3 separate regions of the Homo sapiens genome follow, and regions 1 and 2 are each linked to region 3. Evidence: fine-mapped expression QTL. A gene starts in region 3. Each other region holds a variant in brackets. All regions are shown on one strand. Distances are from middle to middle.

The links.
Region 1: its variant is fine-mapped to the expression of NQO1 in fibroblasts (GTEx, PIP 0.99).
Region 2: its variant is fine-mapped to the expression of NQO1 in lymphoblastoid cells (GTEx, PIP above 0.99).

What each region holds. Positions count from the first base shown.
Region 1 is chr16:70,673,316-70,681,492 of GRCh38, reverse strand. MTSS2 (MTSS I-BAR domain containing 2) reads left to right here. Exons shown (of 15, transcript NM_138383.3): 2 at 468-529; 3 at 626-699; 4 at 1,438-1,522; 5 at 1,616-1,707; 6 at 1,789-1,863; 7 at 2,170-2,178; 8 at 3,084-3,241; 9 at 3,594-3,701; 10 at 4,515-4,612; 11 at 6,965-7,187. Among named protein-coding and RNA genes, the nearest start is that of MTSS2, 8.6 kb to the left of the region's middle. The variant G/A (reference allele first, on the strand shown) is at 3,874.
Region 2 is chr16:69,788,261-69,796,437 of GRCh38, reverse strand. All of the region lies in intron 2 of WWP2 (WW domain containing E3 ubiquitin protein ligase 2), which reads right to left. Among named protein-coding and RNA genes, the nearest start is that of WWP2, 30 kb to the right of the region's middle. The variant C/T (reference allele first, on the strand shown) is at 4,160.
Region 3 is chr16:69,723,104-69,731,280 of GRCh38, reverse strand. It overlaps NQO1 (NAD(P)H quinone dehydrogenase 1), which reads left to right and starts at 4,721. Exons shown (of 6, transcript NM_000903.3): 1 at 4,721-4,848. The coding sequence starts at 4,842. NQO1-DT (NQO1 divergent transcript) reads right to left here and starts at 4,554. Exons shown (of 2, transcript NR_186363.1): 1 at 4,106-4,554. RefSeq lists enhancers at 3,252-4,245, 4,454-4,713, 3,960-5,159, 4,246-5,238.

The DNA of each region.
Region 1 (8,177 bases), 950 kb before region 3:
GCCCTGCCACCCCCTACCCTCCACACTGTGCCTCTGCCCCTGGTGGGCAGGTCAGTGCCAGTGTCCTAGGCACATGTCCGGGAGACACGATGCCTCTCATTGGGCTCAGCCCAGATCCCCTGCCAGGCCCCTGGGAAACCCCGAGGGGACAGGACCTGCCACTTCCTGCTCCATTTCCCCTGAGGGAGGATGTGAGCCCCCTGTAGCCTGTAGGGTGGATGTCCTGATGTCAGGGAGGGAGGGCTTGGCAAAGGCGCCCGTTCCCAGGGACAGGCTTTCCTCATGCTGATGGCTCTGTCCTTGGTCCTCTGCCCTCCGAGAGGACCCAGAGCCTCCCTCTCCATGGGGCAGGGCTGCTGTCTTAGAAACTGCCCCAAGTCTGGATGGAGCATGCAGGGAGCCCGGCCCAGGTCAAGCCCTGCAACCACCCCACAAGAAGCTCACTTTCTCTCCCATTTGCCCGGCAGAGCTCCTACCCTATCTGGGAGGACTTCAACTCCAAGGCCACGAAGCTGCATTCCCAGCTGAGGTGAGGTGGCCCAGGGCACCCCAGCAGGGGAGGGGCAGGCAGAGGCCCCCCCCCCGCCCAACCACCGACCATCCATGCCGTTGTCCCTCTCCCCAGGACCACCGTGCTGGCTGCTGTGGCCTTCCTGGATGCCTTCCAGAAAGTGGCTGACATGGCTACCAACACCCGAGGTGGGGAGGCGCGTGGCTGGAGGTTGGGGTTGCCCCAGGGTGGGCCTGGAGGCTGGAAAGGAAGAGTAGGGGATGGGCCAGGGAAAGGACGGGACGCCAAGCCCAGAACCTTGAGTTCTGCTCCTTAGTGGAGTGGGCTGGTTGTGGAGAGAGTGAGCCCCTCGTCACAAGAGGCATGCAAGCAGGAGTGGGTAAGTAGTGACAGGAGTGTTCCCCGGGGATTCCCTTTTTGCTGTGGGCTGTTCATGTGACCCCCCAGCACAGAGATTCTCCTTAGGGCTTCTTCCCACTCATGCCCTCGTGTCCTTCTAAGAGCACGCAGGGTCAGGTGAGCGCGCCGTTGGGCTTGGCGCCGCCTCTGCCCTCTGGTCCGAGTGGCAGAGACCTGGGGCTCCCGCTCCTTCGGGCCCTGGGCGTGCTCACACTCCCGCACCTGCATCTGGGCACACCTGGAGGGTCGTTTGGCCGGCTCCTGGAACGGTCTTTGGCGCCGGCCTCTCCCAGCTGGGAGAGAGGGGAGGCCGCCGCAGGAGGCTGGCGCGGCTGGGATGGCGGAGGAAGAGCTGGTGGAGATGGAGGAGGCCCCGAATCCCCCAGGGCCGGCGGGACTGCGGCTCGGCGGGGGCAGGGCGCGGGCTGCGGGCTCCGCCTGCGCGGCCGGGGCGCCCCCTCCTGGCCCGAGGCCGGGACTGCGCAGGCCCCAGCGGGCCCCTTCCCACCCCGCGCTTGCCTCGCCAGGGGCCACGAGGGACATCGGCTCGGCGCTCACACGCATGTGCATGCGCCACCGCAGCATCGAGACCAAGCTGCGGCAGTTCACCAAGTGAGTGGGCGCTGCGGGCGGGCAGGGGGGCGGGGGGACGGGGCGTCGCGGGGGAGCCCGGCCCTGACCTGCGCTCCCGCCCGCCCTCCGCAGCGCACTGCTGGAGAGCCTCATCAACCCGCTGCAGGAGCGCATCGAGGACTGGAAGAAGGCGGCCAACCAGCTGGACAAGGACCACGCGAAAGGTGAGGGTGGCGCGGAGCCGGGCTTCCCACCCCCCACTCCGCAGGGACCCCATTAGAGCGCTCCGCTCTCCCCTTCTGCAGAGTACAAACGAGCCCGGCATGAGATCAAAAAGAAGTCGTCGGACACGCTGAAGCTGCAGAAGAAGGCGCGCAAAGGTAGTGCCTGGCGCGGCCCCCCAGCCACAGCCCCACGGCCCCGCTCCACAGCCCCACCGCCCCGTGGGGCGCCCCAAAGCCTTCATCCCAGCCAGAGGGGCGCTGTCCCCGACACAGGACCCTCCAACCTGTTGGGTGGGACAGAGGGAGCTGCCCTTCCCCCCAAACCTGGTCCAGAACCTCCCTATGGGAGGCAGCAGGAGGCCCAGGCACCCCCGCCCCAGGAGTGGCTCTGTCCATCCGGCGTCTTTCACACATTCTTTCTTTCTCTGTCTCTCCTCCTCTCCTCCCACATCCTTCCTGTAGAGCTACTTGGTAAGTCAAATGTCGGTCCCTCCAGCTGCTCCTCCCGTCCTTGTCGCATTTGTCTGTCTCCCCCAGCTCAGGGCCATTGGAAGGAACCTCTCCAGGCCAAGGAGAAGCGAGGAAGGCGGTCGGTCCACGAGGGAGGGGCCTGGGGCACAGTCCCCCTGGGGCCCCCGGGGTCCCTGGCCAGGGATGAGTCCCGGGCCACTGCTGGGTCAGTCTGCCAGGCCAGGAGGGGTTGGCCAGGGCGGGATGGGGGCCACAGGCCCTGGCTGCCCCGCCCCCACCAGGCTGGCCTGCGTCCTTACTTGTCACCTCCTCACCTGCCATCTCATCATCTCCTCTGCATCATCCTCTCGCCTCTCTCTTTCTTGCTGCTTCTTGTGTCGCTGTTGCTGTGTGCTCTGCTCCCTGAGCTGAGTGGGGACCCACACTGAGACCCCTTCCCTGCCTCCAAGGCCCAGCCCTAGCTCTCCTGGCCCCCGCCCCCTGTGGCCTGGCCTACAGCTGAGCCCCACACTCTCTCTTGTCCCGCTTCTGCCCCACCTCCCTGGACCTTGTGAGGTGAGGGGCGCCATCCCGGGTCAGTGAGGGTACCCCAGGTGGAGGCCAGCGAGTCTCCGTGTTGGCAGAGCTCCTGGGCGCCAAGAGCCTCCCCCGGAGATGCCCCAATCCAGCGTGGCTTTGCAGCTTTGGCCTCTTTCTTGTGTGTGTGTCTGTCCTCTCTGCCTGCTTTGGTGGGACTAGCCCTTCCACAAGCCCCAGAGTCCTCACTGCCCTCCGCAGTCCCCTGGCCCCAGGGCAACACCCAGCCCAACGGCCGAGAGATGCCACCACCAGGGTCTGAGCCCATTTGTGGGTGTGGCAAGCCAGGCTGGCATCCCCAGCAAGGCCTCTCCTCCCCACCCCTCCAGGGAAAGGAGACCTGCAGCCCCAGCTGGACAGTGCCCTGCAGGACGTCAACGACATGTACCTGCTGCTGGAGGAGACGGAGAAGCAGGCCGTGCGCCGGGCGCTGATCGAGGAGCGGGGCCGCTTCTGCACCTTCATCACCTTCCTGCAGCCTGTGGTGGTGGGACTCCTGGGGACTCAGACCCCAGAGGGGTGGGCTGGGCCCAGGGTTGACCTTCTGACCTCCAAGAAGGGTCACTTCTCAGCAGTCCCTGGCTGGGGGCATCAAGGCCACATGCTCCTGGCCCAAAGGCAGGTCTCATAGCTCACCATGCACTGATTTGGTCTGGAGAGACCATCATGCCAGCCCTCTGGGCTGTGTGGGCCCCACCTGCACCAGCCCCGAGCAGCATTGGTTAGCGAGGAGGGGTGAGAGAGGAGAGGCCCGACAAGGGCTGCTGCTTCTCCAGGGGCGCTGGGCAGGCGGGCAGGTGGGCGATAGGGCCAGCAGGTCTGACTCGCTGCTTCCTCAGAATGGAGAGCTGACCATGCTGGGAGAGATCACCCACCTGCAGGGCATCATCGACGACTTGGTGGTGCTGACAGCAGAACCCCACAAACTGCCTCCCGCCAGCGAGCAGGTGCGGGAGCCCTCTGGCCAAGGGCCAGGGCCAGGGGCAGGGAGGAGATGGGCTGCCCTAGGTTGGGAACAGTAAAGGGGAAAAGAGGATGGCATTTGGGGGAGGCAGCTAGGGGCATAAGACCAGACCCCTTCTGACACCCACTGCAGGCCATCCCGGAGCACCTGCCCAG[G/A]TCGGGGAGGGTATGCCCTGGCCAGCAGCGTTCTCAGACTCAGAGTAGATGGGTGAAGTCCTGGATCCATGGAGTCAGGCCCAGAGTCTGCCTGCCCTGCTCCATGTGGGCAGACCTCCTGCCGAACCTGGAGACGCCCCACCTCCCTTCATGGCCAGAAACCCCATCCCCTCCCCTAGACCCAGGCGTACCTGGCCACCCCACCCCAGCCCTGCTGCCACTGCACTCAGACCAGTCCTGTCCCACAGCCTGCGGGCAGCACGCTCCAGAGGCACTTGTTGCATGCCCAGCATCTGCCACGTTATCTCAGGGAATCTTCCACTCTAAGACAGGAACAGGAGTAAACAAACTCAGGGAGGCGCAGGAGCAACCTGCACCCCATGGTGTCAGGGTCACTCTCGCCCAGCCCAGGCTGGGCTCGGAATCTCTACTCAGTGCATGTTAGCTGAAGGGGCTCCGAGAAGGCTGTGTCCTCTGGTGTCTCCCTGCTCCCCACATTAGGAGGAGCCTGGGGGAGGGGGCTTCAGATTTCTGGGTCTTCTCCTGGGATGTGGTTCACAATTAGAGAGTGGGGGGGGGCCTCTGGCCCTACTAGCTCTGAGGAGCTGCCTCCAGTGACCCCCATCCATGTCCCTGTCCAGGTAATCAAAGACCTAAAGGGCTCGGACTACAGCTGGTCCTACCAGACCCCACCCTCATCACCCAGCAGCTCCAGCTCCCGGAAGTCCAGCATGTGCAGGTCAGTGGGGGTGGGGTTCCCAGGGGTGTGGGGGGCGGTATCCCAAGAGGAAGTGGGGATGTTCCCAGCAAAATTGCATCAGAAATTGCTTCAGGGCCTCAAAATTCACAACTTTTACACCATCCGAGGAATTTGCATATGTAGAGGGAAAATGTGCCCTGTCATCCCAAGACTGCTACTGGCACAGGCATTTGTTGGCAGAATAGGAAGCAGGGGCAGTAGCAGCTTCATTTATGGAGCATCCACTATGTGCCAGGTGCTGTGCTAAGTGCTTTATGCATTTTTTCTCATTGAATCCTAACACTGCTGTATCAGGAATGGTGTCATCTCCATTTTACAGAAGGGGAAACTGACACATGAAGTCCCAGCATTTAACCACTGGACTCTGCCAGGCCTAGCACCGTGTGGGGTCATAGTAAGAGTCAAAGATCAGGGAGAGATGGGAAGGCTTCTAGAAACAAGTGTTGGGGCCATAAGGTATAGGACACTCCAGCCTGGCTGGCTCCTAAGAGCTGGTTCCCATGGAGGCAGCTGCCGCATTTGGAGCCTTGGCCCAGGCTAGCCCCGGGAGCCTCACACAGCTGGGGAGAGGCCAAGGATCTCGCAGTCACTAGCCAGGCTCAGGATCAGGGGCCTTTCCTTGGCTGGGCACTGGGGCTGGGTTTGGAGGAGACATTGATGGTTCAAGCTTCCTTGGGTGGGGAGGACAGTAAGCACAGAGTGAAGTGCTGGTGGGGGCCCCCCTTTGCCAGGCACCCCTCTCCCCAGAATCACTGGCTGGACATCCAGAGCTTGGGAGAAGCCAGGCACAGCAATCAGCTACTACCTCAGAGAGAGGCTCTTCAGACCCTGCGTGGGTGGCCGTCCCACAGTGAAGGGGCTGATTGCAGGGGACAGCCATGAGCAGGGGCAGAGGCTGGGAGGCTTCAGGGTCACGCTTAGCCAGGAACACCACCCAAGGGTTGAATTGCTGTGCTGAGGGTGTGAGCCATAGAGGGCTGGACACCCTTGAGGGATTGGAGAGAGTGAGGGTGATGGTGGGTGCAGGACCCACTTGGAAGGTGACCTCTGTACGCACACACACCATCACCATATGCTAGACATCCAGTTAGGACTGGATGGCAAATACCAGATTTTGAGAAGGTGGTTTAGGAATGATTGGACTCACCGGGGGCAGTCGTTCACGCCTGTAATCCCAGCAGTTCGGGAGGCCGAGGCAGGCGGATCACGAGGTCAGGAGATTGAGACCATCCTGGTAAAAACGGTGAAACCCCGTCTTTACTAAAAAATACAAAAAAATTAGCCGGGCATGGTGGTGTGTGCCTGTAGTCCCAGCTACTCGGGAGGCTGAGGCCTCAGTGATAAAGATATATTCTTTAGGATATAGGAATCTAGATTAAGATCTTTGGTGAAACCAATAGGTTTTTTGGTGGGTTTTTTGGGTTTTGTTGTCATTGTGAGACAGGGTCTCGCTCTGTCACCCAGGCTGGAGTGCAGTGGCACAATCATGGCTCACTGTGGCCTCGACCTCCCGGGTTCAAGCGATTCTCCTGCCTCAGCTTCCCAAGTAGCTGGGAATACAGGTGTGCACCACCACGCCTGGCTAATTTTCATATATTTTGTAGAGACAGGGTCTCACCCTATTGCCCAGGCTGGTCTCAAATTCCTGGACTCAAGCAATCCACCCACCTCAGACTCCCAAAGTGCTGGGACAGGTGTGAGCCACCACGCCCAGACAGGACAACTGTTTCTTGTTTCTTTTTTTTTTTTTCAAGACAGAGCCTTGCTCTCCTAGGCTGGAGTGCAGTGGCATAATCTTGGCTCACTGCAACCTCCGCCTCCCAGGTTCAAGTGATTCTCGTGCCTCAGCCTGCCAAGTAGCTGAGATTACAGGCATGCGCCACCATGCCCAGCTAACTTTTGCATTTTTAGTGGTGATGGGGTTTCGCTATGTTCTCCAGGCTGGTCTTGAACTCCTGTCCTCAAATGATCCACCCGCCTTGGTCTCCCAAAGTTCTGGGATTACAGACATGAGCCACTGTGCCCAGCCTGGACAACTGTTCTTAGTGGCAGAATAGGAGGCAGAGAGGTTGCCTCACCCTGGGCATTCCCTGACCACGGCTCCCCTCAGCACTGGGGCTGGGGGTACCCTGCTCTGGCCCTCCCCTTCCACACCGTCCCAGAACACAGCTCCTGTGTAGCACCTGGGTCTCAGGACCTCCTAGTCTGACATTGTCTTTTCCTTCCTTTGCCCCTCACCTCTTTCCCCACCCTCGTTTGTCAACCTCCCCCAAACACACACCCCTCTGTCTCCCTGTCTGGCTGCTGTGCCCTCTTCCTTCACTCCCCTAGTGCCCCCAGCAGCAGTAGCAGTGCCAAGGGTGGCGGAGCCCCATGGCCTGGGGGTGCCCAAACATACTCACCCAGTTCCACCTGTCGCTACCGCAGCCTGGCGCAGCCAGCCACCACCACCGCTCGCCTCTCCAGCGTTTCCTCCCATGACTCTGGCTTCGTCTCCCAGGACGCCACCTACTCCAAGCCCCCCTCGCCTATGCCTTCAGACATCACCAGCCAGGTGAGGGGGCGTTAGGAGGATCAGTCAGGGTGGGGTGCAGCAGCCTTATGCCAGCATCAGGCAAGCCACATGCGGGACTACTATAGCTGTTGAGACTACTATAGCTGTTGAGACTGGCCTGAAGGCCCCCAAGGCCTTTATTCTGTTCAGTATTTATATTATTATTTTCTATCTCTGCTTTTAAATTCACATATCTTTATATCTTAAATGAGTCTCTTGTAAGCAGCATAATGCCTAGATTTTCTTTTTTTATCCAATCTGACAACCTCTATCTTTTAATTGCCATTTTTAGCCCCTTTGTATTTACTGACATATTTGGACTTCTGGCTTTCTTCTTTCTATTTGTCCTGAATTCTTGTCTCTACCCTTGACTTTGTTTTTTCTTTTCTCTTATTCCCCGTCTGCTGGATTGTAAGTTATATTCTGTCTCTTTTCTTTTATAGGTTACCTTGAAATCTTACCATATGCATACTTAACACAACCCCACCTCCTGAGTAATTCAAGGCCCTTAATATATATTTTTTTACTTGTCACCCACTCCTTCTCAAACTTACAAGCTATATTATTTTCTCTTTTTTTTTACAGTACCCACAAATGACATTTTTCTTCTTAATTTCTTTATTTTATACATACAGTACTTATTTAGATTTACCCATATGTTAATACACATTTCTTGTCATTTTTTTCTTGCATCTCAAATCCTCCAAAGCTTATTTTCTTTCTTTCTGAAGTAAAAAACATCTTTTAGAAGTTCTTTTAGAATAGATCTGTAGTTGTAAACTCTCAGTTTTTGTTTGTTTGTCTGTAAACATGTTTTATTTTGTCCTCTTCTTGAAAGTTCGTTTTGCCAGGAACACTATTCTGGGGTGACAGTTGTCTTCCATCCACACTGTGAAGGTATTTTTCCGCTGTGTTCTGGCTTCCACCATTGGTTGGAAGGTCAGCTGTCAGTCACTGATGCTTCTTTCTGAGGAATCTGAGTCTCTCTCT
Region 2 (8,177 bases), 65 kb before region 3:
ACCAGATGATCTTGCCTAGCTGCGGGATATCGAAGTGTCCTGAGCACATTTAAGGTAGGCTAGGCTAAGCTATGATGCTCGGCAGATTAGGAGTATCAGATGCATTTTCAACTTGCGATATGTTCAACTTATGATGGGTTTTTCAGGACGTAACCCCACTGTAAGTTGAGAAGTATCTGCGCTCATACACATACACACTTTTTCCTGAAACTCTGAGAGTAAGCTCTAGACATTGTGCCCCTTTACTCCTAAATATTTCTGGGTGTATTTCCCAACAAACACATTTTTTAACATAACCAATAGCACAATTATCAAAATCAGGACATTTAACTTTTTATAATACTAATATTTAATTTACAGACTTTATTCGTATTTTGCCAATTGTCCTATCGATGCCCATCATCGCAAAAAAAAAAAGAAAGAAAAAAAAATTTGTTCTGGTCCAGGCCCCAATCTAGGATCATACTGGCATTTAGTACTCTTATTTTGAAGCAGGGCATGGTGGCTCACGCCTGTAATCCCAGCTCTTTGGGAGGCCGAGGCAGGCAGATCACTTGAGGCCAGGAGTTTGAGACCAGCCTGGGCAACATGGCTAAACCCTGTCTCTACCAAAAATACAAAAACTAGCTGGGCGTGGTGGGGCACAACAGTAGTCCCAGCTACTCAGGAGGCTGAGGCATGAGAACTGTTTGAACCCAGGAGGCGGAGGCTACAGTGAGCTGAGACCACACTCCAGCCTGGGTGATGGAGAGAGACTCTCACAAAAAAAAAAAAAAAAAAAAAAAAAACCTCCTATTTTTAAGTTTCCAATCTATAGAAAAATTGAAATAGAACAATAAATACTGTATACTCTTCACCAATTGTTATCATTTTGCCACATTTGCTTTCTGTTCTATGTGTCTATAGCATCACTACCCAAGAGAACTTCCATGATGACGAAAATGTTCCACATCTGTGCTGCCCAATACATTGCCATGAGACACATGTGGCTATTGACACTTGAAATATGGCTAGTGCAAATAAGGATATGATTTTTAAATGTTATATAATTGTAATTTAAGTGTAAACAGTTCTATGTGGCTACAGTGACTATTCTATTGGACACCAAAGGTTATAGATAAATGCCATCTATGTCTCTGTGTATGTGTGTGTGTGTGTGTGTGTGTGTGTGTGTGTGTATCCGCATTTTTTTTCCTAGGTAAAACCATTAAAAAGTAAGTTGTAGACCGGCTGGAGTGCAGTGGCACGATCACGGCTCACTGCAGCCTCGACCTACCTGGCTGAAGCGATCCTCCCACCTCAGCTTCCTGAGTAGCTGGGACTACCAGTGCGCAACACCACGCCTGGCTAACTTTTTAATTTTTTTTGTAGAGACGGGATTTCACCCCATTGGCCAGGCTGATCTCGAACTCCTGGGCTCAAGGAATCCACCTGGACTCAAGCGATCTACCCGCCAGAGCTTTCCAAAATGCTGGGATTACAAACATGAGCTACTGCCCAGTCCCCAGACATATTTTTAAAGCCATTTTTCCCCCAATTCAGTACCTAATCAATATATACAAATTGCCTGTGGCTACTATCTCCTTAATCTTTTAAAATCTAGAACATCCTCCCTTCTTTTCCATGGCAATGATTTTTGTTTGTTTAACTTTTTGGTTTTTTTCTTTTATAATCCCAGCAGCTTTGCCAAGGCAACAATGATTTTTAAAGACTTCCACCAGCTGTTTTAAAGAATGCAGCAAATTCTACATTTTTCTAATTGTGAAACTGCCTTTGCAAAATTATGACAGAGAAATCGGACATAGTTGATTCCATCTTACTTCTGATTTCTAGGCTGTCCTTGGTCATTCCTGGGCATGGGCCAAGCTAATTTTGGGAGAAATTTAGTTTATAGTTTCTTTTTTTTTTTGAGACCGGGTCTCCCTCTGCTGCCCAGGCTGGAGTGCAGTGGTGCAATCTCATCTCGCTGCAGCCTCCACCTCTGGGGCTCAAGCGATCTTCCCACCTCAGCCTCTCAAGTAGCTGGGACTACAGGTGTGAGCCACCATGCCTGGCTCATATTTGTATTTTTTGTAGAGACAGGGTTTCCATGTTGCCCAGGCTGGTCTCAAACTTTAAGCCTGAGCTCAAAGTCATCCACCCGCCTCAGCCTCCTAAAGTACTGGGATTACAGGCATGAGCCACCACACCCAGCCTATAGTTTAATCTTAAAGCAAGGATAGCTGGGCATGGTGGCTTATGCCTGTAATCCCAGCACTTTGGGAGGCTAAGGGAGGTAGATCACTTGAGACCAGGAGTTTGAAACCAGCCTGGCCAACTTGGTGAAACCCCGTCTCTACTACAAGTACAAAACTTAGCCGGGCGTGGTGGCGCACGCCTGTAGTTCCAGCTATTCAGGAGGCTAAGACACGAGAATCGCTTGAACCCAGGAGGCAGAAAGTGCAGTAAGCTGAGATTGTCCAACGCACTCCAGCCTGGGTAACAGAGCAAGACCCTGTCTCAAAAAAAAAAAAAAAAAAAAAAAAAGCAAGGATAATAACAGCCCTTCCCAAAACGAAACCACCTTTGTAAAACTAATCAACAGCCACAAGGTTAGGATTATGGGAGGGGCTTGAATTCTAATAAGAGGTAGGTATAGTTTCTATAATCCCTTACTGCTCAGGAGTCATGAAGCCAGAGGTCACAAGATTTGTGACTTCCCCAATTGCTCCCATAGATAACATCGCTATTGCAGAACCTAAGGTTGGTCTTTTGAGATTTTTTCTTTCTGGCAATCTACTGACTTTGCCTGGGCCCGTGACTTGACTCGTGAAACAAATTATCCTGTGGCCCCACCCAGAAGTGGACTCAGCACAGGACCATTTTCCACACCTCTATAATCTCATCCCCAACCAATAAGCAGCACCCATTCCCTAGTCCCCTACCTGTCAAATTGTCTATAAAAACCCTAATCTCTGAGCCTCCAGGAAGACTGATCTGAGTGATAACTCTGTCTCCCATATGGCCTGTTTTGTGTCAATTAAACTCTTTCTCTAATGCAATGCTACAGTCCCAGTGAATTTATTTATTTATTATTATTATTTTTTTAGATGGAGTCTTGCTCTGTCACCCAGGCTGGAGTGCAGTGGTGCAATCTTGACTCACTGCAACCTCTGCCTCCCAGGTTCAAGCAATTCTCTGCCTCAGCCTCCCAAGTATCTGGGATTACAGGCGCCTGCCATCACACCCAGCTAATTTTTTTGTATTTTTAGTAGAGACAGGATTTCACCATCTTGGCGAGGCTGGTCTTGAACTCCTGACCTCATGATCCCACCTAGGCCTCCCAAAGTGCTCGGATTACAGGCATGAGCCACCGCGCCCAGCAGTGAATTTATTTTATCTGTGCAGTGGGCAAGAAGAACCCACTGGGTGATTACAATTGTTTCCTCATGATTAGATTCGGTTTAAAGGCCAGGCACAGTGGCTCACCCTGTAATTGCAACACTTTAGGAGGCCGAGGCAGAAGGGCCACCTGAGCCCAGGAGTTCGAGACAAGCCTGGGCACCACAGCAAGACCCCAAATCTACAAAAAATAAAATATTAGCCAGGTGTAGTGGCTCACACCTGTAGTTCCAGTTACTCGAGAGGCTGAGATAGGAGGATCCCTGGAGCCCAGGAGGTCGAGGCTGTAGTGAGCTGTAATTGTGCCACTGCACTCTAGCCTAGGTGACAGAGTGAGACCCTGACTCAAAAGAAAGAAGAATACTACATAAGTTATGTCGTGTACCTCTTACCACATACATTAGGTTGTCCTGCCATTGGGGATACTAAGTTTGAACATCTGCTTAATGTGGAGTTGGCCAGGTCTCTCCACTGACACATTTGTAACCTACAGTTAATCAGCAGGGTGATATTTTGAATATTTCTTGTTCTTAAAAGACAGGCTAAAATAAAGATATGAGCAAGTTTATCTAGAAAGTCTCTTTCATGAAATATATCTTTATACACAGAGTCACGACTTTATGTGAGATTTAGCTTTTAAAGTCAACAAATCAGGCAAAAATCATATAAAGACAAAATTATACACTGAAAAAGCTCTTAAGAAGGGACCACAATAGAGTCTGGCATCTGCTCTCTCAATAAGTTCCAAACAGCTTGTTTCTTGTTTTATTATACTATG[C/T]TTTTCAGAGATCAGTTTTTCAGTGTTTCTCTAGTAAAATATCAAATAAAATAGCTGTCCTACGTTTAAGGGCCTCGATGCATTTAAAAATATACCTTAAAACACCAGGATCACACTGTGGGCAGGCACAAGGGAACTGGAAACCGCGCAGTCACACCCCACAGGTTACACTATCAGCTTTCTTCATGAAATGCACGGGAAAAAGAACCACCTACGCTATTTAAATGGTTATTTCTCTCTTTCTCTTTCCCCCCACCATTTTCCTGAATGGTATTACCAAATCTGTGTAGGTTAAATATGTGTATAATGAGATACACCAGTATTATCAAGCTGGCTCTTTCCACCCTGGTAAGAAAATTCACCTTCAAGAAAGGCAACAAAAAAGCCTTTAGAAGTATGTGCTGGACAGGTGCAGAGGCTCACATCTATAATCCCAGCACCTTAAGAGGCCGAGGTGGGGGCCAGGCACGGTGGCTCACACCTGTAATCCCAGCACTTTAAGAGGCCAAGGTGGGAGAACTGCTTGAGTCCAGGAGTTTGAAACCAGCCTGGACAGCACAGCAAGACCTATCTCTATAAAAAAAATTTAAGAATTAGCTAAGTATGGTAGTGTATGCCTAAAGTCCTAGCTACTCAGGAGGCTGAGGCAGGAGGATTGCTTGAGCCTATTTTGAGGCTGCAGTGAGCTGTAATCATGCCACTACATTCCAGCCTGAGCAACAGAGAAAGACTGTCTCAAAAAAAGAAAAGAGGCCAGGTGCAGTGGCTTACGCCTGTAATCCCAGCACTTTGGCAGGCCGAGGTGGGTGGATCACCTGAGGTCAGGAGTTTGAGACCAGCCTGACCAATACGGTGAAACCCTGTCTCTACTAAAAATACGAAAATTAGCCGGGTGTGGTGGCAGGTGCCTGTAATCCCAGCTTCTTTGGAGGCTGAGGCAGGAGAATTGCTTGAACTTGGGAGGCAGAGGTTGCAGTGAACCAAGATCACGCCACTGCACTCCAGCCTCGGCGATAGAGCGAGACTCCGTCTCAAAAAAAAAAAAAGAAAGAAAAAAAGAAAAGAAGTAAGTGTGCGTGGCTGAATAACATGGCCCCAAAACAGAGACCTCAGGATGTTACCAGGTCCAATAGGCCAACTTCTGCTTTGACCTAGACTTGCTAATTATTAGCTAAGGTAATAAAGTCTGTAGCCCCCAGTTTAAAACCATATTAGTTCACTCTAACTCATCTCCCTACTCAAAAGGGCAGAAGCAAGGCAAAAGACTCCAAGAAATATAATTAAAATATTTCAAGACTACAAAAACAATCAATAATGTAATAAGAAACAGGCAAAGAACATGAACAGGCAATCCATAGGAAAGGAAATACAACCGCCCTTAAATATATAAGATGCTAAACACTGGCCGGGTGCAGTAGTTCACACCTGTAATCCCAGCACTTTGGGGGGCTGAGGCAGGCGGATCACTTGAGGTCAGAAGTTCGAGACCAGCCTGGCCAACATAGCAAAACCCCATCTCTACTAAAAATACAAAAATTAGCCAGGTGTGGTGGCACATGCCTGTAAACCCAGCTCCTTGGGAGGCTGAGGCATGAGAATCGCTTGAACCCAGGAGACAGAGGTCGCAGTGAGCCAAGATCACACCACTGCACCCCCGCCTGGGTGACAGAGTGAGACTCTGTCTCAAAAACAAACAAAAAAAAAGATGCTAAACATCATACAGTTGACCTTTAAACAAGAGAGGTTTGAACTACAAGGGTCCACTTTTACATGGATTTTCTCCTGCCTTTGCCACCCAAGAGATAGCAAAACCAATCCTTCCTCTTCCTCCTCCTCCTCAGCTACTCAACATGAAAATGATGAGGATGAAGACCTTTATGATGACCCACTTCCACTGAATAAATAGTAAAATTTTTTTCCTCCTTATGATTTTTTCTCTAGCTTATTTTATTGTAAAAATACAGTATATAATACATGTAACATACAAAATACGTGTTAATCAACTGTTTCTCTTTTTTTGTTGTTTTCTTTGAGATAGAATTTCGTTCTTGTTGCCCAGGCTGGAGTGCAATGGTGTGGTCTCGGCTCACAGCAACCTCGGCCTCCCGGGTTGAGGCGGTTCCCCTGCCTCAGCCTCCCAAGTAGCTGGGATTACATGCGCCTGCCACCACGCCTGGCTAATTTTTTTGTGTATTTTTAGTAGAGGCAGGGTTTTACCACATTGGCCAGGCTGGTCTCGAACTCCTGACCTCAGGGAATCTGTCTGCCTCAGCCTCTCAAAGTGCTGGGATTACAGGCGTGAGCCACCGCACCCAGCCAATCAACTGTTTCTGTTATTGGCAAGGCTTTCAGTCAACAGCAGGCTATTAGTAAAGTTTTGGGGGAGTCAAAAGTTACATGTGGATTTTTTTACTGAGCAGGGAATCAGCACCCCTGACCCTCATGCTGTTCAAGGATCAAATGCGTAAGTAAAGAAGTGGGAAATAAAACTACACTGAGAACACAAGCTTGCACCAATGAAACAGGCAAAAGTTAAAAGTCTGACAACATTGTGCTGGTAAAGATGTAGGGAAACAGGCACTCTCGCACATTGCTAGAAGGGTATTCCTTCCAAGGAAGGCAATCTGGCTCTCAAAATTACAAAAATGCATCCCTTTTGGTGTATCTTGGAAGAGACACACAAGAAACAATACTGGTTTTTTCCAAGGAGGAGCACTGAAGGACTGCAGGAAAGAATTTTGAACTATAGGAGGCTGGGCACGGTGGCTCACGCCCGTAATCCCAGCACTTTGGGAGGCCGAGGCGGGGAGATCATGAGGTCATGAGTTTGAAGCCAGCCTGCCCAATATGGTGAAACCCCATCTCTACTAAATATACAAAAAGTAGCCAGGCGCGGTGGCACACGCCTGTAGTCCCAGCTACTGAGGAGGCTGAGGCAGAAGAATTGCTTGAACCCGGGAGGCGGAGGTTACAGTGAGTCGAGATCGCACCACTGCACTCCAGCCTGAGCAACAGAGCGAGACTCCATCTCAAAAAAACAAACAAACAAAAAAGTTAGCCAGGCCTGGTGGCACACACTGGTAATCCCAGCTACTTGGAAGGCTGAGACAGGAGAACTGTTTTAACCTGGGAGGAAGAAATTGCAGTGAGCCGAGACAGCGCCACTGCAGTCCAGCCTGGGCGACAGAGCGAGACTCTGTCGCAAAATATAATAATAATAAAATTAAAAACTAAGATTTTTAAACTCCATGAGTATATTATATAAATAACATTTGCATTTCAAAAATACTCAAGAAAAATATTCCCAAGAGACACAATTTTGCCTCTGGAGGACCAGGCTGAGGGGTCTGAGCTCAGATACTGAGAGCCACTCTCCCATCTGTGATGGCTGCAGAGCTATGGAACCCGAAGCAATATTCTTTCGTTCAGGCACTATTTACTGAGGGCCCACTATGTGTCAGGCACTGTTCTACTGGCTGGGGTAGTTAACAGTGACCAAAGCGACAAAAATCTCTTACTGTGGATCTTACACTCTATTGAAGGAGACAGTCAACAAATGAAATAAATTAATTAAACAGGGACAAGGGCTGATAAGAAAAATATAAAGAAGAGAGGGAAATAGATGTGATGAAGTCAATGAGAAAGGTGGCGTTGGATCAGGGGATCAGGAAGAGGGTGGCTTTTGAGAAAACGCCTAAGGAAATAATGAAGCGAAAAGCATTTCACTCAGAGGGAACAGCAAGTGCAAAGGCCCAGAGGCAGACGCCTGCCCAGTGTATTCACTGAAGAGCAAGGAGGCTGGGGCACAGAGAATGTAGACCAGGAACAGGAGATGAGAAATGTGGGGTGGGGAAGGGTCACATCACATGGGAGCTTCGGCTTCTACTGTGAAATGGAGCACCCTTGAATGGTTTGAGCAGAGGAGTGACAAGACCCAGCTTACATTTTTTTTTCTGAGACATGGTCTCGCTCTGCTCTGTTGCCTGGGCTGGAGTGCAGTGGCACAATCACAGCTTAC
Region 3 (8,177 bases):
TGTTGGAGGGCAGGAAACATCCAGCACAGAAGAAAGATGTAGACTGGGAGGCTAGGCCAGTCTAGCCCCACTTATTTTTTTTTTTTTTTTTGGTGAGGTGAGTCTCTGTCACCCAGGTTGGAGTACAGCGGTGTGATCTCGGCTCACCGCAACCTCTGCTTCCTGGGTTCAAGCTATTCTCCTGCCTCAGCCTCCTGAGTAGCTGGCATTATAGGCATGCACCACAACACCCAGCTAAATTTTTTTGTATTTTTAGCAGAGATGAGTTTTGCCATATTGGCCAGGCTGGTCTTGAACTCCTGACTTCAAGTGATCCACCCGTCTCGGCCTCCCAAAGTGCTGGGATTACAGGCGTGAGCCACGGCACCAGGCCTAGTCTAGTCTTTTCACGTTTTTCTGCCTGCTTTATATTCTGGCCGCACTGGCAGCTGATTAGTTGGTGCCCACCCAGATTGAGGATGGGTCCGCCCTTCCCAGTCCCACTGACTCAAATGTTCACCTCCTTTGGTAACGCCCTCACAGACACACCCAGGATCAATACTTTGCATCCTTCAATCCAATCAAGTTGACACTCATTATTAACCATCACAAGGTGTGAGCCCTGCACCCAGCAATATATTGCTTTTTATATATTTATAGAAATTCAATTGGTTCTGTTTCTCTGGAAAATCCTGATCAATATACACTCCTTCATTTTTCTTATAGCACTGAATTATGGGATAAACCAGGTTGGTTGTCCTGTAGAATGTCCCACACTGTGATTTGACTGATGTTTCCCCATGATTTTAACTTCTATCTCCTGTGTTTCCCAATCAACCCACTTGGGTTTTTGTTTTTTCTTTTTGTTTTTAGATAGGGTGTCACTGTGCTGCCTAGGTTGGAGTGCAGTGGTACAGTCACAGCTCACTATAGCGTCGACTTCCCAGGCTCAGATGATCCACCCATCTCAGCCTCCTTAGTAGCTGGATCCACAGGTGCACACCACCACACCTAGCTAATTTTTAATTTTTTTAGAGATGGCAGAGGTGGGGGGGGTTGCGGGGGGGTCTCACTATGTTGCCCAGGCTGGTCTTGAACTCCTGGGCTCAAGCGATCCCCCTGCCTTGGCCTCCCAAAGTGCTGGGATTACAGGTATAAGCCACCGCACCTGGCCCCAAACAACCCACTTTTTTTATTCTCTCAGTTTTTGCCCTTATTTAATCCCCCACTCTTACTTCAGCCTCGTTAGGAACTTGAGTCTCTGGACCCCTCTACTTTTTCTCTGCCAATAAGCCCTTTCATAATGTTCGTCATCACTCCAACCACTCTACTTTTTAAAAATGGACTTTGTTGAGGAATAACATGCATACAATAAAATGCTTGTATTTAAAATGTACTTTTCAGCGGATTTTAATAAATACATACATCTGTGTAACTACCGCCACCATCAAGTCGCTCTCTTCTTCACAGCCCCCACTCTGTCTCCTCTCATCATGCTTTCCCAACCTACATCAATCCCTCAGACTCCCCCTCTCCTGGCACGCCTGGCTGCAGACCTGCAGGAGAGAACACACACGCCGACCTGCTGGAAACCTGTACATCAGTACTGCCCTCCCGAGGACCCTCGGTCTTTGTCCAGGCAGCAGTGCTCGCCCATGCTCCACAGCAGCTTTTTCTTTTTCTTTTTTTCTTGAGATGGAGTCTCGCTCTTGTTGCCCAGGCTGGAGTGCAGTGGCACAATCTCAGCTCACTGCAACCTCTGCCTCCTGAATTCAAGCGATTCTCGTGCCTCAGCCTCCCGAGTAGCTGGGACTGGAGGCGCCCACCACCACACCCAGCTCATGTTTTTGTATTTTTAGTGGAGACGGGGTTTCACCACATTGGCCAGGCTGGTCTCCAATTCCTGAGCTCAAGTGATCCACCCGCTTCAGTCTCCCAAAGTGCTGGGATTACAGGCCTGAGCCACTGTGCCCGGCCAGTAAGTTTCTTTTTTTCTTTTGAGACAGGATCTCCCTCTGTTGCCCAGGCTGGAGTGCAGTGGCATGATCTTGGTTCACTGCCACCTCAAATGTCTGTCTTTACCACTGTGTAGTAACAAATTTGGCCAGGAGTGGTGGCACATACCTGTAACTCCAGCACTTTGGGAGATCAAAGCGGGAGGATCACATGAGCCCAGGAGTTTGAGACCAGCTTGGGCAACATAGTGAGACCCTATCTCTACCAAAAAAATAAAAAAAAATTAGCCAGGCACGGTGGCATGCACCTGTCATCTCAGCTACTCAGGAGGCTGGGGCAGGAGGATTGCTTGACTCCAGAAGGTCGAGGCTGCAGTGAACTATCATCATGCCCCTGAGCCCCTAAATCCCAAATGATAGGAGTGTCCATCTTATTCATTGTGGGCTTCTCAGACCACTCCTGATGGTTTATGCTAATGAGATGACTTGGGATGGGCCCCTATATAGTTCATGTTAACAAGATGACTGAGGATGGGAACTGGCCATGCTGGAAACCAACGACCGAACACGACACTTGAGCTTTGTGGCTTTGAGCCCCACCTCTGGATGGGTCAGGGAGACTGGTGATTGAGAAAACAATCTCACTAGAAGAGTGAGAGATAGAATAGCCAGCACACTGCGGCCTCGATCTGAACCAGCTCAGGTCTTTCCAAACACTAGTGACATGTGGCTATCTAAATTTAATTAAAGCCAGGCGCAGTGGCACATGCCTGTAATCCTAGCACTTTGGGAGGCCGAGGTGGGCAGATCACCTGAGGTCAGGAGTTTGAGACCAGCCTGGCTAACATGGTGAAACTCATCTCTACGAATAATACAAAAAGTGGCTGACTGTGGTGGTGCATGCCCGTAGTCCTAGCTACTCAGGAAGCTGAGGCACAAGAATTGCTTAAACCCAGGAGATGGAGATTGCAGTGAGCCAAGATCCTGCCACTGCACTCCAGCCTGGGCGACACAGTGAAACCCCGCCTCAAAAAATAAATTTTTAAAAAATTAATTTAATTACAATTAAAACTTCACTTCCTCAGTCCACTGGCCACTTTTTTTTTTTTAATTTCCATTTTTTTTCTTTTATTGAGTCCACCACTGCGGCCTTGAATTCCTGGGCTCAAGCGATCTTTTTGCCTCAGATCCTGAGTAGCTGGGACACAGGCGCCTGCCACCACGCCTGGCTGCTGGCCACATTTCCAGTGCTCAATAGCTACTTGAAGCTTGTGGCTACCTTACTTGGGCAGCACAGATAGGGAAAGTTCTATTGGACAGGGCTGCCTACCTAGCCCTTTTTTAAAACGTCCTTTTATACTATTTTGTCAGATGGGGTCTCACTTTGTTGCTCAGGCTTTTCTCAAACTCTTGGGCTCAAGTGATCCTCCTGCCTCAGCCTCCCAAAGTAATTTGTAAATACGTGTAAATAATATAGTCCTCTCTTGTTGCATCAAAATGAATGCAAAAATGTCACGATGGGGCCGGGCGCGGTGGCTCATGCCTGTAATCCCAGCACTTCGGGAGGCCGAGGCGGTAGGATCACCTGAGGTCGGGAGTTGGAAACCAGTTTTCTGGTGCCTCCTTAACTTTTGCACTGGAGGGACAACGGAAGGGCCCTGTGTCATCCTCACCTCCCCCATCTGTGATTCTTCTGATGGTTAATTACCACTTTAAAGCTCTAGTTCTTTTTCCTTCACCTACTGAGAGTATATCTCCTTCTTTACAGTAACTTTTACTTTATAGAGTTTTTTTTGAGACGGAGTCTCACTTCGTCACCCAGGCGGGAGTGCAGTGGCACGATCTCGACCCACTGCAACCTCCGCCTTCCGGGTTCAAGCGATTCTCCTGCCTCAGCCTCCCGAGTAGCTGGGACTTACAGGCGCCCGCCATCACGCCCAGCTAATTTTTCAGTACAGACGGGGCTTCACCAGGTTGGCCAGGCTGGTCTCGAACTCCTGACCTCAGGTGATCCACCCACCTCGGCCTCCCATATTGCTGGGATTACAGGCGTGAGCCACCGCGCCTGGTCCCGTTTTGGCTATTCTTTAATATGCTTCCCTATAACTGCTATCTCCACACCAGCCTTGCCTTAGCTCATGGGAAACAAAACCAATTAGTTCCCCCATTACCTGCCTTGAGGAGCAGGGGTGGTGCAGTGGCATGCACCCAGGGAAGTGTGTTGTATGGGCCCCCAAGTGCAGAATCTGAATCTTGCAAAGGAAGAAACAAATTCGTCTCCACGGAGCATGTCTCCCCAGGACTCTCAGCCTTCCAAATCCGCAGTCACAGTGACTCAGCAGAATCTGAGCCTAGGGCACCACAGTAATCCGCATCCGGCTCTTTTTCTGCTCCATTTCGTGCCAAGGCTAAAAGGGCATGCCCACTTGATCCCTGGACTCTCTTGGGACGACTTCCACCCTGCATCCTCTTGCACCTCAGGGCACAGTGCGCAGATGGGCTTGCCTTAGCACCCCCAGCCAGATTTTTGAGGCCTCTGTCACACACACCCCTACAATCCCCTCCCCCAGCCCCGAGAGACTTTTCTTGACTTCCACCAGTTGCTCCGGCGGGTGAGAGTGGAGAGGCCCCTCCTTCATCCCCCAGGCTCCCTCCCTTCCTGGAGCTGCAGCCTCAGCATCCTCCGCCCAGCACCCCAGGATTCAGGCGTTGGGTCCCGCCCTTGTAGGCTGTCCACCTCAAACGGGCCGGACAGGATATATAAGAGAGAATGCACCGTGCACTACACACGCGACTCCCACAAGGTTGCAGCCGGAGCCGCCCAGCTCACCGAGAGCCTAGTTCCGGCCAGGGTCGCCCCGGCAACCACGAGCCCAGCCAATCAGCGCCCCGGACTGCACCAGAGCCATGGTCGGTGAGTGCTGCAAAGGGCGGGGTGCTTGGCGGTCGTCTCTCGAGCACTGGTGCCTGTGGAGGAGGTTGTAGGGGCTTGGCCCTGAATTTTGTTCCTTGACTCAAAACCCACAAAGGGAAGAGATTAGGGACCTGGGATGAGCCTTGATCGGACTCCGGGAGAAGGAGAGCTTCTGTTTGTATCCGGTGTCGCGGATCCTTCCTCACTCCACCCCACGAACTCTAGTGGGCATTTAGGAGAAACTTGACCTTGGAAGCAGAAATTCCCTCCAAAACTGTGGTCAGAAACTGGCCGTCAGAGGCCAAATCAGGCTTACGGTCACAGCCCATACCTCTTTTGGTCTATAGTATCTAAAACACTTTGAAATAAGTTGCTAACATTAAAATGGGTGATTTCACTTAAAAATGTGGATTCCGAGCTTCTGAAGAAAATGAGAATATCTGGCGATTGGTGGACAGGAGTGGAGGAAACTGATGCCTTTGGTTTGACGGAGACCAGAACCGGCTCCAGGCTGCCAGGCACAGGTTTTGTTTTGTTTTGTTTTGTTTTGTTTTGTTTGAGACGGAGTTTTGCTCTTGTCGCCCAGGCTGTAGTGCAATGGCGCTATCTCAGCTCAGCGAAACTTCCGCCTCCCGGGTTCAAGCGATTCTCCCATCTCAGCCTCCCGAGTAGCTGGGATTACAGGAGTGCGCCATCATGCGCGGCTAATTTTTATATTTTTAGTACAGACGGGTTTCGCCAAGTTGGCCAGCGCGGTCTTGAACTCCTGACCTCAGGTGATCCACCCACCTCAGCCTCCCCAAGTGCTGAGATTACTGACGTGAGCCACCGTGCCTGGCCTTGGGAGGCATTTTCCATTGAGGCCCTTGGATTAGGCAAACCTGATCAGATCGTACTGGATCCGTTTCTAGTATTGGGTCCACTTCAGTGATAGAGCCTTCCCACTCGGCCATCGACCCTAGGGGAACTCAGAGGTCACCCCAGCTCCACCCAAGGCATAAATAACCAGCTGAGACAACTGCAGGGATTGAGAGCTGTTTCCCAAATAATCTCACTCTGAGATTGGACAGTACTAAGATTTAGAAAGCTGTTGCCTCATCTGGGGCAGAATCCTGTGTTTTGTAATTTCCTTCCCTGTGGACCTGGTCCTGCCTCTAAAAATGCGCCTGTACACAAAGAAGCCCATCTTGGTCAAAGTGAGTGGAGGAACAGACTGCCCTTGCAGTTGACAAACTGAAATTATCAGGATCTCTGAGAAAGGGACTAAGCTGGGGATTGGTAGCCCAGCATGAGTTACTGGCAGAGACAGCAGGGAATAGATTCTGACAGCTGAGAGGCTTGCCGCATACACGGTGGTTGCTGTTTCCCTTGTATTTCATTCTTCAGCGTCGAGGCACTGGCACCCTCTCCTCCAATACTAGGGCAGGAACTATTTCCTGACTTTTCAATCTTACAGAATGTTCTGTATTTACGTGTAGCTTAAACACAAAAAAGGGCGGTGGTAATGAGGTGAAAAGGGAAGACTTGGATCTTGTATAATTAGTTTTAGCTGTACCCAGCTAACCAAATCTTGAGGTTAACTAAAGCATCCAGGTTTTTTGTTTGCAACTAATAGATGCATCTGATTTGCACTCATGTTCCCTGGAGCACTCAAGTGAGAAGAGAAGGCAGAAGGAGAATGCATGAAACTGATACAAAGGCTTATCTTTATCATACTTCTTTTTTTCTTTTTGAGACAGGGTCTTGCTTTGTTGCCCAGGCTGGAGTGCAGTGGCATGATCAGGGCTCACTTCAGCCTTGACCTCCTGGGCTCAAGTGATTGTCCCATCTTTGCCCCCGAGTAGCTGGGACTACAGGTGTGTGCCACCACACCCAGCTAATTTTTTTTGGTCAGAGCAGAAGAACTTGAAACCCAGCTAATTAAAAAAAAAAAAAATTTTGGCTGGGAGTGGTGGCTCATTCCTGTAATCCCAGCACTTTTGGGAGGCTGAGGCGGGAGGACTGCTTGAGGCCAGGAGTTCAAGACCAAGATTCAGCTCAAATGGCAAGCTCCTCTGAGGGCCTTTCCGAATGGGCCAGCCCTGAGGTCCTGAAGTTTTCCTCTGTTGAACTTTTTGAGATGGAGTCTCACTCACTCTGTTGCCCAGGCTGTAGTGCAGTGGCGTGATCTTGGCTCATTGCAATCTCCACTTCCCAGGTTCAAACGATTCTTGTGCTGCAGCCTCCCAAGTAGCTGGGATTACAGGCGCCCACCACCACGCCCAGCTAATTGTGTATTTTTAGTAGAGACGGGGTTTCACCATGTTGGCCAGGCTGGTCTCTAGCTCCTGACCTCAAGTAATCCACCCGCCTCGGTCTCCCAAAGTGCTACGATTACAGGCATGAGCCACCACACCCAGCCTTCTGTTGAACTTTGTCCCTTACCTCTCCTAACACACTAATGCCATTGTACCCTGAAGAGGTTATCCGTGTGTGCATCTTGTGGCCTCTCTCAGGGTAAACTCTAATAGTCTAACTCCTCCCAGGTCATGTTGCTCAGCTAGTTAAGTGGCAGGAAGGGAAAATGAACCCTCCAGGGCCCAGAAAACTTTTAAATTGCCTATTCACAAGCATCTTTTTGTTTGTTTGTTTGAGACAGAGGCTTGCTCTGTTGCGCAGGCTGGAGTGCAATGGTGCGATCTCGGCTCATTGCAACCTCCGCCTCCTGGATTCAAGCAATTCTCCTGCCTCAGCCTCCCGATTAGCTGGGATTACAGGCACCTGCCACTACACCTGGTTAATTTTTTTTTGTATTTTTAGTAGAGACGGGGTTTCACCATGTTAACCAGGCTGGTCTCTAACTCCTGACATGAGGTGATCTGCCCGCCTCAGCCTCCCAAAGTGCTGAGATTACAGGTGTGAGCCACCGCGACCCACCCACAACCTTCTTTTGATCATTTTTCTTTTGAGTTGTTTTGGGGATCTACCTATTCCAGGTACTGCACTTTGATGGTTATATTTGTTGCAAATATATTATTCCTGCTTGTGTGTTGCCTTACATGAAAAATTGTAAAGTCACAGGCCTGCTTATAGCTATTAGAGTCTGAGCTCCTTGAAAGAGCAAGAGATGGATATCCTGATTTGCTCATTTTCTGAGAAGTGCCTTGACTGTCTTACTACTTAGAAAATGCTTGTTAACATTGATGAGAAGTCAATAAAATAAAAACTGTTGGCTGGGCGCTGTGGCTCACGCCTGTAATCCCAGCAGTTTGGGAGGCCGAGACAGGCGGATCACGAGGTCAGGAAATCGAGACCATCCTGGCTAACACGGTGAAACCCCGTCTCTACTA